3 linked regions of the Homo sapiens genome follow. Changing the gene in region 3 together with the main gene of any one other region gives a genetic interaction. Each region holds a gene or a part of one and is shown on either strand. Other genes may lie near its edges. The genes, in order: CACTIN, RBM22 and GTF2E1.

Evidence for each region.
Region 1: changes in GTF2E1 (region 3) and CACTIN together harm fitness less than expected from each alone (positive genetic interaction), as found in Homo sapiens cells (one large-scale study listed by BioGRID).
Region 2: changes in GTF2E1 (region 3) and RBM22 together harm fitness less than expected from each alone (positive genetic interaction), as found in Homo sapiens cells (one large-scale study listed by BioGRID).

What each region holds. Positions count from the first base shown.
Region 1 is NC_000019.10:3,613,415-3,616,887, forward strand, and holds part of CACTIN (splicing factor Cactin), read right to left. Parts: exon of another isoform or gene 1,182-3,473; intron 1,176-1,181; coding exon 983-1,175; coding exon of another isoform or gene 979-982; exon of another isoform or gene 972-978; intron 517-971; exon of another isoform or gene 173-516; coding exon 50-172; exon of another isoform or gene 1-49. UniProt on the Homo sapiens protein: Plays a role in pre-mRNA splicing by facilitating excision of a subset of introns. Required for the splicing of CDCA5/Sororin, a regulator of sister chromatid cohesion. Involved in the regulation of innate immune response.
Region 2 is NC_000005.10:150,694,413-150,698,062, forward strand, and holds part of RBM22 (pre-mRNA-splicing factor RBM22), read right to left. Parts: intron 2,480-3,650; coding exon 2,379-2,479; intron 2,294-2,378; coding exon 2,121-2,293; intron 1,295-2,120; coding exon 1,094-1,294; intron 1-1,093. UniProt on the Homo sapiens protein: Required for pre-mRNA splicing as component of the activated spliceosome. Involved in the first step of pre-mRNA splicing.
Region 3 is NC_000003.12:120,745,660-120,749,309, reverse strand, and holds part of GTF2E1 (general transcription factor IIE subunit 1), read right to left. Parts: intron 1-3,650.

The sequences.
Region 1 (3,473 bases), on a different chromosome or scaffold from region 3:
TCCTGCTCCGCGTCTGCATCGGCGTCCCCGGGGTGCCGGCCGGGCCTACCTGCGGCTGGGGGACTGGGGCTCCTGCTTGAGGATGGGGAACAGCGGCTCGCTCTCCACGCCCTGCTCCTGCTTCAGTTTGTACAGCTTCTGCCGCAGCACGTCCTGGTGGCGCTCACGCAGCCTGGGACGCAGAGCCGGGGTCACCCGCATGGAGGCGAAGGGGCTCCGCGCCCCACCCCCACCGAGATTCTCACGCCCCTTATTGCTGCAAGGACCCTGAGAAGGTGGCGAGCAGCCACGGCTCTGGCTGGGACCTTTGCCCAGGCTTGGTCAGTTCAGGGTCAAGGCTTATGGGAGAGAGGACGAGAGGACGCAGGTACCCTGGTGAACCATCCCATGGCAGGGAGAGGTGGGTCTCTGTCTCACGCTGCAGTCTCAGTGTCTTGTGGCTGGGGCTGGCCAGGAGAAGGGGCCCAGCAGGACACCAGCCAACAAGCATGATAAATTTAGAGACATTTACAAATTAGCAGAGGAGACATGTATTTACACAGCGGTGCCAAAAACACTCCAGAAATCTGTACACAGCCAGAGGCCGGGAGGCAGCAGCGCTGGGAGGGCGCAGGCCTGGGCGCAAGGCAGTGGGGACAGGCAGGCCGCCTGGGGGCTTCCTGTGATGCCATGGCTGCTGGAGCGCGCCAGGTACTCGTTAAAGGGCGGAAGCTCCTGGGGAGCCCTGTGAGACCAACAGGGCTGACTCCAGGTGAGGGCACTGGAGCATCCTGGGGCCTTCCCGCTAGGGCACGGGACTACGCGCCCCCCGGCCCCCCTTCGTCACTCACAGGCTGGCCCCGGCCAGTCGGCACTTTCCTGCCCCTCTCCACCCCACATGGTCCCAGGAGGAGGCGAGACCCACCCCACCCAGGACTCAGGAGGGGGCGAAACCCATCCCACCCGGACGGCACCAACCCTGGTACCCGCACCTAGTGCTCACCGGGCCCGTGCCATGTGGGCACGAAGCTGCTGCAGGAGGCTCTCCCAGTAGCCCATGTCCAGGTTGGGGCCACCAGCGCGGATTTTGCCCTCGATGCCCTGGAAGATGACCTGCAGCTGGTTGTATGTCTTCCCCTTGAACACCGACTGCACATCAGAGCTGACGGAGGCGTTGACCCCCTCGCGGCGCTCACCTGCAGCGGGGTGGGGGCATGGGGGGGCGGTTCCACATTTCCTACGTGCTCCTCCACCCCATCAGGGCCTCCTCCCCTGCCATGGGGGGGTCCCCCTCCCCTCCTCTTCCCCCACAGGGGTCCCATCCAGTCCCGCCACCTCCCTGGTCTCAGGTTGTCCCCACCCTGGCCACAGCGGAGGGGAGGGGGTGGGCGGAGGTTGGGAGCCACGTTAAGATGCAGTTGCTGAGGCCTTGACCTGGAGGCCCAGGCCCCCAGCGTGGGGGAGGCCAGGACTGGCCCTGAGAATGCCCCTCCCCAGGTGAGTCTGATATGTGGGTCTGGGAACCCTAGTTGTGGGCCCGGCCCACCAACCTGGCCCAACTCTGCCCTGGCCTTGGGCAGTCCATGAGGGGGTTGGGGGGTGTGCTCGGTAGCCAGGCTCTCTGGAATTCAGATCTTCTCTGCCAGCCTGGGCTGTGTGACTGTGGGCAAGTGGCCTGCCCTTTCTGGGCCTTAGTTTCCCTCTGTGAAGCCTAGCAAAGAAGGCCACCCTGCTGGCCCCTGGGGAAGTCCTGGGCCCGCCCCAGGACAAACAGCTCCCCACCGCCGCCCCCCATCCTACATGGAGTCTGTCTGGCATCTACCACTGGCCCAGGGGCCCGAGGCTCAAGTCCCTCCTCGATAGACGGGGAGGCTGCTGAGGGCGGGAGTGGGGTGCTGGGAGGCTGGAGCCTAGCCTGACTCCGCGTGCTCTGCCCCACACCACGTGGCATCCCGGCGGCCTCAGTGCTGCTCTCAGGCCACTTCCACCCACCCCGCTGGGTCTGGCCTCACCTCGCAACCCTGCCCCTTGCTGCCCATGCCGAACCCCTGCCACCTCTGGGCCTTTGCACGCACTGTGCTTCCTGCCAGCTACCCATCCTTCTCTGTCCCATTCGCTTCCTGAATTCCTCGCATCCTCCATGCTCAGTGAGAACATCCCTTCCGCCAGGAAGCCCTCCCTGACCATCCAGCGATGGCAGCTTCCCGAGGCGGGCAATGGGGCTGGCTGCTGCTGTTCCCTGTGCCATGCTGGGCCCACAGGGAGCTTGGTGCATAGCTGCTGGTGACACACTGGGCGGGGGTGACCAGTGCAGGCACCCTGCTCGAGACCTGCCTTCTCCAGTCCCCGCTGGCGGACAGAGGGTCAAGAGGCCCACACCTACACCACAGGGGACTGGATAGAGTCTAGACGGACCCGAGTCCCCTCCAGCCAATCACCTGGGACCCTGGAATCGGCACCCAGAGCTGCAGCCCCTTTGCTGGGCGCTAAGTGGCACTGGAATCCGTGGCAGCCCCAGCCAAGCACAGCGCGGCCGTGCCCAGACAGGCGGGGCTACCACGAACACTGAAACCCAAGCAGAAGAGCCCAGCCGCGAGGCTCCCAGGAAGCCAGGCCAGGTGCCGCCAGGTCAGCGTCTATAGAAAGCCGGGTCTGGACATGCTGCTGCATGTCTGGATGCCTCCCGAATGCCCACAAGGGGGCCCGGGGGTTTAGGGGGTCCCAGCAGCTGCTAGAGGCTGGGGGTGCAGGCCAAGGGCCCTGGGGCTGCGTGGGGGAAAGGCCAGGCCCTACACAGGGTGGGAGGCTAATGAAGCTGAGCTGGGATGACACCCGTTTTCTACTGCACAACCTCCTGTAGGGTTAGAACTTCCTAGAAAAAGCTAGGTGCACCAAAATCTCACAAGTCACCACTAAAGAACTTATTCATGTAAACGGCCGGGCACGATGGCTCACGCCTGTAATCCCAGCACTTTTGGAGGCTGAGGTGGGTGGATCACGAGGTCAGGAGATCAAGACCATCTTGGCCAACATCGTGAAACCCTGTCTCTACTAAAATACAAAAAATTAGCCAGGTGTGGTGGTAGGTGCCTGTAATCCCAGCTACTTGGGAGGCTGAGGCAGGGGAATTGCTTGAACCCAGGAGGCAGAGGTTGCAGTGACCTGAGAACACACCACTGCACTCCAGCCTGGCAAGAGAGCAAGACACCGTCTCAAAAAACAAAAAAACTTATTCATGTAACCAAACACCACCTGTTCCCCAATAACCTACAGAAATAATAAAAAAACTTTAATTTTGTAAAAATTAAAAAGAAAAAGCATGCAGTCACTCATGCCTTTAATCCTAGCCCTTCTGGAGGTGAGGCAGGAGGATTGCTTGAGGCCAGGAGTTCAAGACTAGCCTGGGCAACACAGTGAGACCCCATCTCTACAAAAAATTTTCAGAAGTGGCTGGGCACAGTGGCTCACTTCTGTAATCCCAGCACTTTGGGAGG
Region 2 (3,650 bases), on a different chromosome or scaffold from region 3:
TGATTGAGAGAAGGAAAGAAAAATAATGAGTAAATAAAGGTTCTCAAACATCTCAGGGTTTTTTCCCATGGAGGAAAGGGGGTTCTAATAGGTTCTTTAAAGACCCTAAACCCTAGATAAGAGGTTGGCAAACCATAGCTCTCAAGGCCCATGAGCCAAGAAAGTTTAAAACAAGAATACGTGACAGAGACTGCATGTGGCCCACAATGCCTAAAATATTCACCATCCAGCCTCTTACAGCGAAAGTCTGCCAACCCCTGGGGGTTGTCTAGCTCACTTAGATAGGGTTTAATGGAGACAGGCTACCAAGGGCAGGTTATAAACTTACAGGAGTTTCTTCTCCACTTTATCTCTTTGGAAGAGGTAATTTCCATTACTATCTGCCCAGAAGTCTCATCTAGCCAAGCATAATACAAGCCAAAAATAACACAAATTTATCAAATGCCAGTCTCTTTAAAAACCAACAATTTAAACCACAAGAGTTTTATCATCGCAAAGCTCTCCCTCCTCTACATAATTCATCATACTTGGATGCGTGCCATCCTTTAAAACTTGGCTGTTAGGTCAAATAGAATCCTATGTCATTATTACCATATGCCAGGATGGATAAGCACTCTTTGAGCTTTGGTTCTGAGACAGGGTCTCACTCTGTTGCTTAGGCTGGAGTGCAGTGGTGCAATCACAGCTCACTGCAGCCTTGATCTCCCAAGCTCAAGCAATCCTCCTGCCTCAGCCTCCCAAACAGCTGGGACTACAGGCACATGCCACCACACCCGGCTAATTTTTTTGATTTCTTAGTAGAGATGTGGTCTCACTATGTTGCTCAGGCTGGTCTCAAACTCCTCGGTTCAAGAGATCCTCCCAAAGTGTTGAGATTACAGGCATGAGGCACTGTGCCCAGCCACATAAGCACATTATTACTGTGGCACCATAAAGGACAATTTTACAAAAATTCCAGTCAGCATGATACTAACAATAGAGAGACTACAGAAAAATGTATTTTGTACAGAATGATCATTCTTGCAGTTTTTGCAAATAAATTATTCCAGGGCAGTTAAAGGCAAAAATAACTCTCTAACTTATACCCACAAACCTTAAATCTGTCTCAGTAATGGTATCACCTAGACCACCAACATATAGTGTGGTGATAGTTTTATCCTCTGGTGGGTCCAGCCGAGGCATTGTTGAAGCCCGCTTTAGAAGCTTGTCAGCTACAGGATCATTGATTCCGTAATAACGGTCTTTAATATTCTGATCAGCAAGGGGGTCATCTGGATCTGTAGGCTTCTCATGTCTATGATTCAAGAAAAAAACAAGGCATAAAGGTGAAACGAAGGTGAAAAAATGATTATCTTCCAAGAGTAGCTACATATTAAAGTCCTAGATACATATTCTGAAGTGCCTTTTGAACTAGAAACTATGGTTTCTACCAAAATATAATTACCAAAATAGACCTAATACCAAGAGATTTACTGTATCACGGAAGGAATTACTAGCCTCCTAAAAGCCATTAGGCCATCTAGGATGCCAAACTTTCCTTATAAATAAATACTCTTGACATGATCCACCCCCTCCCGCCCCCCAGAAAGGGACACATGATTACCCCTCTCTAGGTCAATGATTCTTAACACATTTGGGGTGCTGTATTCCACTGAGAATCTGATTAAAGCTATGAACCTCGCCCCAGAGAAAGCACATACATTATTTTTTAGGGGGTGGGGTTAACCAATCCCAAATTAAGAACTCCTAATCCAGATGCTTGGCAGTCTTAACCAAAACATACACACCCTTTAGAAGTCTGACCTTACTTTGACTTCAACTATACATTGAGAGTCAACTCATTTAAACCATGGCAGTGAAGATTTACTTCTCAGGCAGAAATGTTTAGGGTCAGCATCTATATTGTATGGCATAGCAATTTAGTTTCCAAGGCTCAATTGTAAGTAAAAACTACAATTTATTCATGCTCTTCTAAATTTCATAGTTCTAAGACATGAGGTATACCACATTAGTTGTATGACCTTTAGATTTTAAAGCAGAAACAGTTTAAGTTAGGACCTCCCACTTCTTAGATGAGAAATCATCTGAAAGCAAATACTGAAAATGAGGCTCGCTCTTGCCTGTATGGACATTCCTCTCCTCTCTTACACTCTCCTTTCACCCAGAAGGAGCAAATGTGGGGTCGATTCCTTTTGTAGTAGGGTGTGGTCCGGGCCAGTTTGAGCAGCATGTCACTGGTAGATGTGGCTTTCCCCAGCATGCCAACTGGCCGTGTTCCATCAGAGTTAGAAATCTAAGTGGGGATGACAAATTCAAAAGATAAATTATACAGACTGTGTCAATTCATTAGGATTTTTATCCAAAAAGTGGCAGCATACCTCTCTCTCCATATTCTGTGTATAGTACTCTTTGTTGACATCTGACTTTGGCATGTCATCTTTAAAAGACAATCCTGCGTCACGAACCTGGATGGGCAGGCCTGGTACAAAAAAAGAGGAAAAAGACCTCAGATGTATTTTAAAACATATCCATACTAACCATGCACACAGAATACATCATCTTTCCCTTCTCCTCTTTCCTATTTAGTACCAGAGACTTTACTATGTTTTTATTCAAACTCTTTAGCACCATCAGGTTACTTCTGCTACACAGCATGCTAAGAAATTGTCCAAATTCCTGAACTGTCAGGAAATTTGATGAAATTAATGCTTTAGAAAAAATCTTTTAGGCTGGGTGTGGTGGCTCATGCCTGTAATCCTAGCACTTTGCAAGGCTGGAGCTGACAGATAGCTTGAGTCCAGGAGTTCGAGACCAGCCTGGTCAACGTGGTGAAACCCCATTTCTACAAAAAATACAAAAATTAGCTGGGTGTGGTGGTATGCACCTGTAGTCCTAGCTACCCAGGAGGCTGAGGTGGATCACCTGAGCTTGGAAAGGTTAAGGCTGCAGTGAGCCATGACCATGCCACTGCACTCCAGCCTGGGCAACAGAGTGACACCCTGTCTCAAAAACAAAAAACAAAAAAATTATAAAAGAAAATTTTTAGATGAACAAACTGTGCCCATGGTCATATTCAACCTGTAAATTAGCTCCTAGTTTTTATTACAACATGATTTATTTAAAGTAAATGTAAAAGTGGTTTCTTTCTAGGTTAGTCTTACAGATCCTCTGGATAGTCACAGTCATCTAAGGGTCACTGTACTCCAGGACCAGACGCCTCCTTAACAAACATATAAATAATATTACATAAAATGTGGCCAGGACTCTGACTAGAAGAGTAACTCTAATGAACTTAACATACATAAACTCATATATTTTTCCCTTTCCTTTAATAGTAAAAACTCTTGTTGAAAAATTATCTTTCTGAAAAACAGTCACCTATGGTTAAAAAAAAAATTACTCCCAAAAGCAGTTACTCTGAAACAGTAGCAATATATCAGTTCTAACAACACAATTGAAATAAAAGTCTAAAGCACAATTAGGCTGGCTATAGTGGCTCTGGGAGGCCAAGGTGGGAGGACTGCTTGAGGCCAGAAGCTCAAAACCAGCCTGGGCAAAATAGTGACACACACACACACGTGCACTGGGTGTGGTGGTATACCAGGAGGCAGAGGCAAGAGGATCCCTTGAGCCCAGGAGTTCGAAGTTGC
Region 3 (3,650 bases):
TCTTACCACTCCTATTCAACATAGTGTTGGAAGTTCTGGCCAGGGCAATCAGGCAGGAGAAGGAAATAAAGGGTATTCAATTAGGAAAAGAGGAAGTCAAATTGTCTCTGTTTGCAGATGACATGATTGTATATCTAGAAAACCCCATTGTCTCAGCCCAAAATCTCCTTAAACTGATAAGCAACTTCAGCAAAAAGTCTCAGGACACAAAATCAATGTACAAAAATCACAAGCATTCTTATACACCAATAACAGACAAAAAGAGAGCCAAATCATGAGTGAACTCCCATTCACAATTGCTTCAAAGAGAATAAAATACCTAGGAATCCAACTTACAAGGGATGTGAAGGACCTCTTCAAGGACAACTACAAACCACTGCTCAATGAACTTAAAGAGGATACAAACAAATGGAAGAACATTCCATGCTCATGGGTAGGAAGAATCAATATCGTGAAAATGGCCATACTGCCCAAGGTAATTTATAGATTCAATGCCATCCCCATGAAGCTACCAATGACTTTCTTCACAGAATTGGAAAAAACTACTTTAAAGTTCATATGGAACCAAAAAAGAGCCCACACTGCCAAGTCAATCCTAAGCCAAAAGGACAAAGCTGGAGGCATCACGCTACCTGACTTCAAACTATACTACAAGGCTACAGTAACCAAAACAGCATGGTACTGGTACCAAAACAGAGATATAGACCAATGGAACACAACAGAGCCCTCAGAAATAACGCTGCATATCTACAACTATCTGATCTTTGACAAACCTGAGAAAAACAAGCAATGGGGAAAGGATTCCCTATTTAATAAATGGTGCTGGGAAAACTGGCTAGCCACATGGAGAAAGCTGAAACTGGATCCCTTCCTTACACCTTTTACAAAAATTAATTCAAGACGGGTTAAAGACTTAAATGTTAGACCTAAAACCATAAAAACCCTAGAAGAAAACCTAGGCATTACCATTCAGGACATAGGCATGGGCAAGGACTTCATGTCTAAAACACCAAAAGCAATGGCAACAAAAGCCAAAATTGACAAATGGGATCTAATTAAACTAAAGAGCTTCTGCACAGCAAAAGAAACTACCATCAGAGTGAACAGGCAACCTACAGAATGGGAGAAAATTTTTGCAACCTTTTCATCTGACAAAGGGCTAATAACCAGAATCTATAACGAACTCAAACAAATTTACAAGAAAAAAACAAACAACCCCATCAAAAAGTGGGCGAAGGACATGAACAGACACTTCTCAAAAGAAGACATTTATGCAGCCAAAAAACACATGAAAAAATGCTCACCATCACTGGCCATCAGAGAAATGCAAATCAAAACCACAATGAGATACCATCTCACACCAGTTAGAATGGCAATCATTAAAAAGTCAGGAAACAACAGGTGCTGGAGAGGATGTGGAGAAATAGGAACAGACTTTTACACTGTTGTTGGGACTATAAACTAGTTCAACCCTTGTGGAAGTCAGTGTGGCGATTCCTCAGGGATCTAGAACTAGAAATACCATTTGACCCAGCCATCCCATTACTGGGTATATACCCAAAGGACTATAAATCATGCTGTTATAGAGACACATGCACACGTATGTTTACTGCGGGACTACTCACAATAGCAAAGACTGGGAACCAACCCAAATGTCCAACAAGGATAGACTGGATTAAAAAATGTGGCACATATACACCATGGAATACTATGCAGCCATAAAAAAGGATGAGTTCATGTCCTTTGTAGGGACATGGATGAAATTGGAAACCATCATTCTCAGTAAACTATCGCAAGAACAAAAAACCAAACACCGCATATATCTCACTCATAGGTGGGAATTGAACAATGAGAACACATGGACACAGGAAGGCGAACATCACACACTGGGGCCTATTGTGGGGAGGAGGGAGCGGGGAGGGATAGCATTAGGAGATATACCTAATGTTAAATTACGAGTTAATGGGTGCAGCACACCAACATGGCACATGTATACATATGTAACTAACCTGCACATTGTGCACATGTACCCTAAAACTTAAAGTATAATAATAATAAAATAAAAATAATAAAAATAAAAAATAAAATAAAATAAAATAAAAACCTGGGCTTCGGGAGGTGGAGGTTGCTGTGAGCCAAGATTACACCATTGCACTCCAGCCTGGGCAACAAGAGCGAAACTCAGTCTCAAAAAAAAACAAAACAAAAAAACAAAACAACACAAAACTGGGCTTTGAAATTCAGAGTACACAGCCTGTGTTTTGGTAACTGTGTAATCCTGAGCAAATCCCTTAAACAATTTCAAGCCACCTTTTACTCGCTAAGAAGTAAGGATAGTATCAACTACCTCAGTGGAGTTGTTGTGATTAATAAGAATATAATTAAAGTGCTTAGGAAGGACAGCTTCCATATCAACTTAACATGTTCCAAACTAAAAATGGCTAGACTATCCACACAGATTAAATCAAGTTAAATTTCCCTAGGCCACAGGGAATTTGTTTTTCTTTTCATAGAGAGAGTGTCTTGCTCTGTTGTCCAGACTAGAGTTCGGTGGTGTGACTTGGCTCAGTGCAGTCTCAACCTCCTGGGCTCAAGCAATCTTCCCACCTCAAACTCCCCAGTAGCTGAGACTACGGGTGGACACCACCATGACTGACTAATTTTTGTGTTTTTTGTAGTGACAGGGTTTCACCATTTTGCCCAGGCTGGTCTCGAACTTCTGGGCTCAAGGGATCCACCTACCTTGGGGGCTTCCTAAAGTGCTGGGATTACAGATGTGAGCCACCACACCCAGCCCACAGGATAATTTTTTTTTTTTTTGGAGACAGGGTCTCGATCTGTCACCTAGGCTGGAGTGCAGTGGCGCAAGCTCGGCTCACTGCAACTTCTGCCTCACAGGTTCAAGCAATCCTCCTGCCTCAGCCTCCTGAGTTGCTGGGACTATAGGCATGCACCACCACGCCTGTCTAATTTTTGAATTTTTAGTAGAGACAGGGTTTCACCATCTTAGCCAGGCTCCACAGGATAATTTTTAAGAGAGACATCCCATTGAACTATTTCAATGGAGAATCATATTCTGTTATTAATACTAGTTTCAACTAACCCTTTTATTTGAAATCAGTGGTTATCAACCCAACAGATTTAATACTCTTTTTATAAGAAATATTTTTATATCCACAGTACCATACTATAAGGAAACTCTATACACCAATCTATAACCAATCTATGCATATATTTTGGGGGGAAAATATAAGGCCCTTCCTGTAATAAAGGAAAAGTAAAAGTCAGTCAAAAGAAAATACGTACTTTAGGTTATAAATACTCAGGTATGACTACATATTGTAAGATATAACAAAGTAGCACCTAGATCCAAATCTGTGAACTTAGAGCCTTCCTGCTACCCCAGGGCTTAAGGATGCCTGGGAAGTACCTGGGCTCGACACCAAAGTAGTACCACAGCATACTACTGGACACACTTTTCTCTCCTTTTCGGTTTGGTCTATACATTGTACTTGAACCCCGTTTTCATTTTTTGTTGTTTTACATCCTCAACAGTTGTCAGAACACAACATATGGCTTCAGAAACATTCAACAAAGAACAGCAGAAAAATGTCAACATAACCTGTTTCCAGGATTATTTCCTACTATTG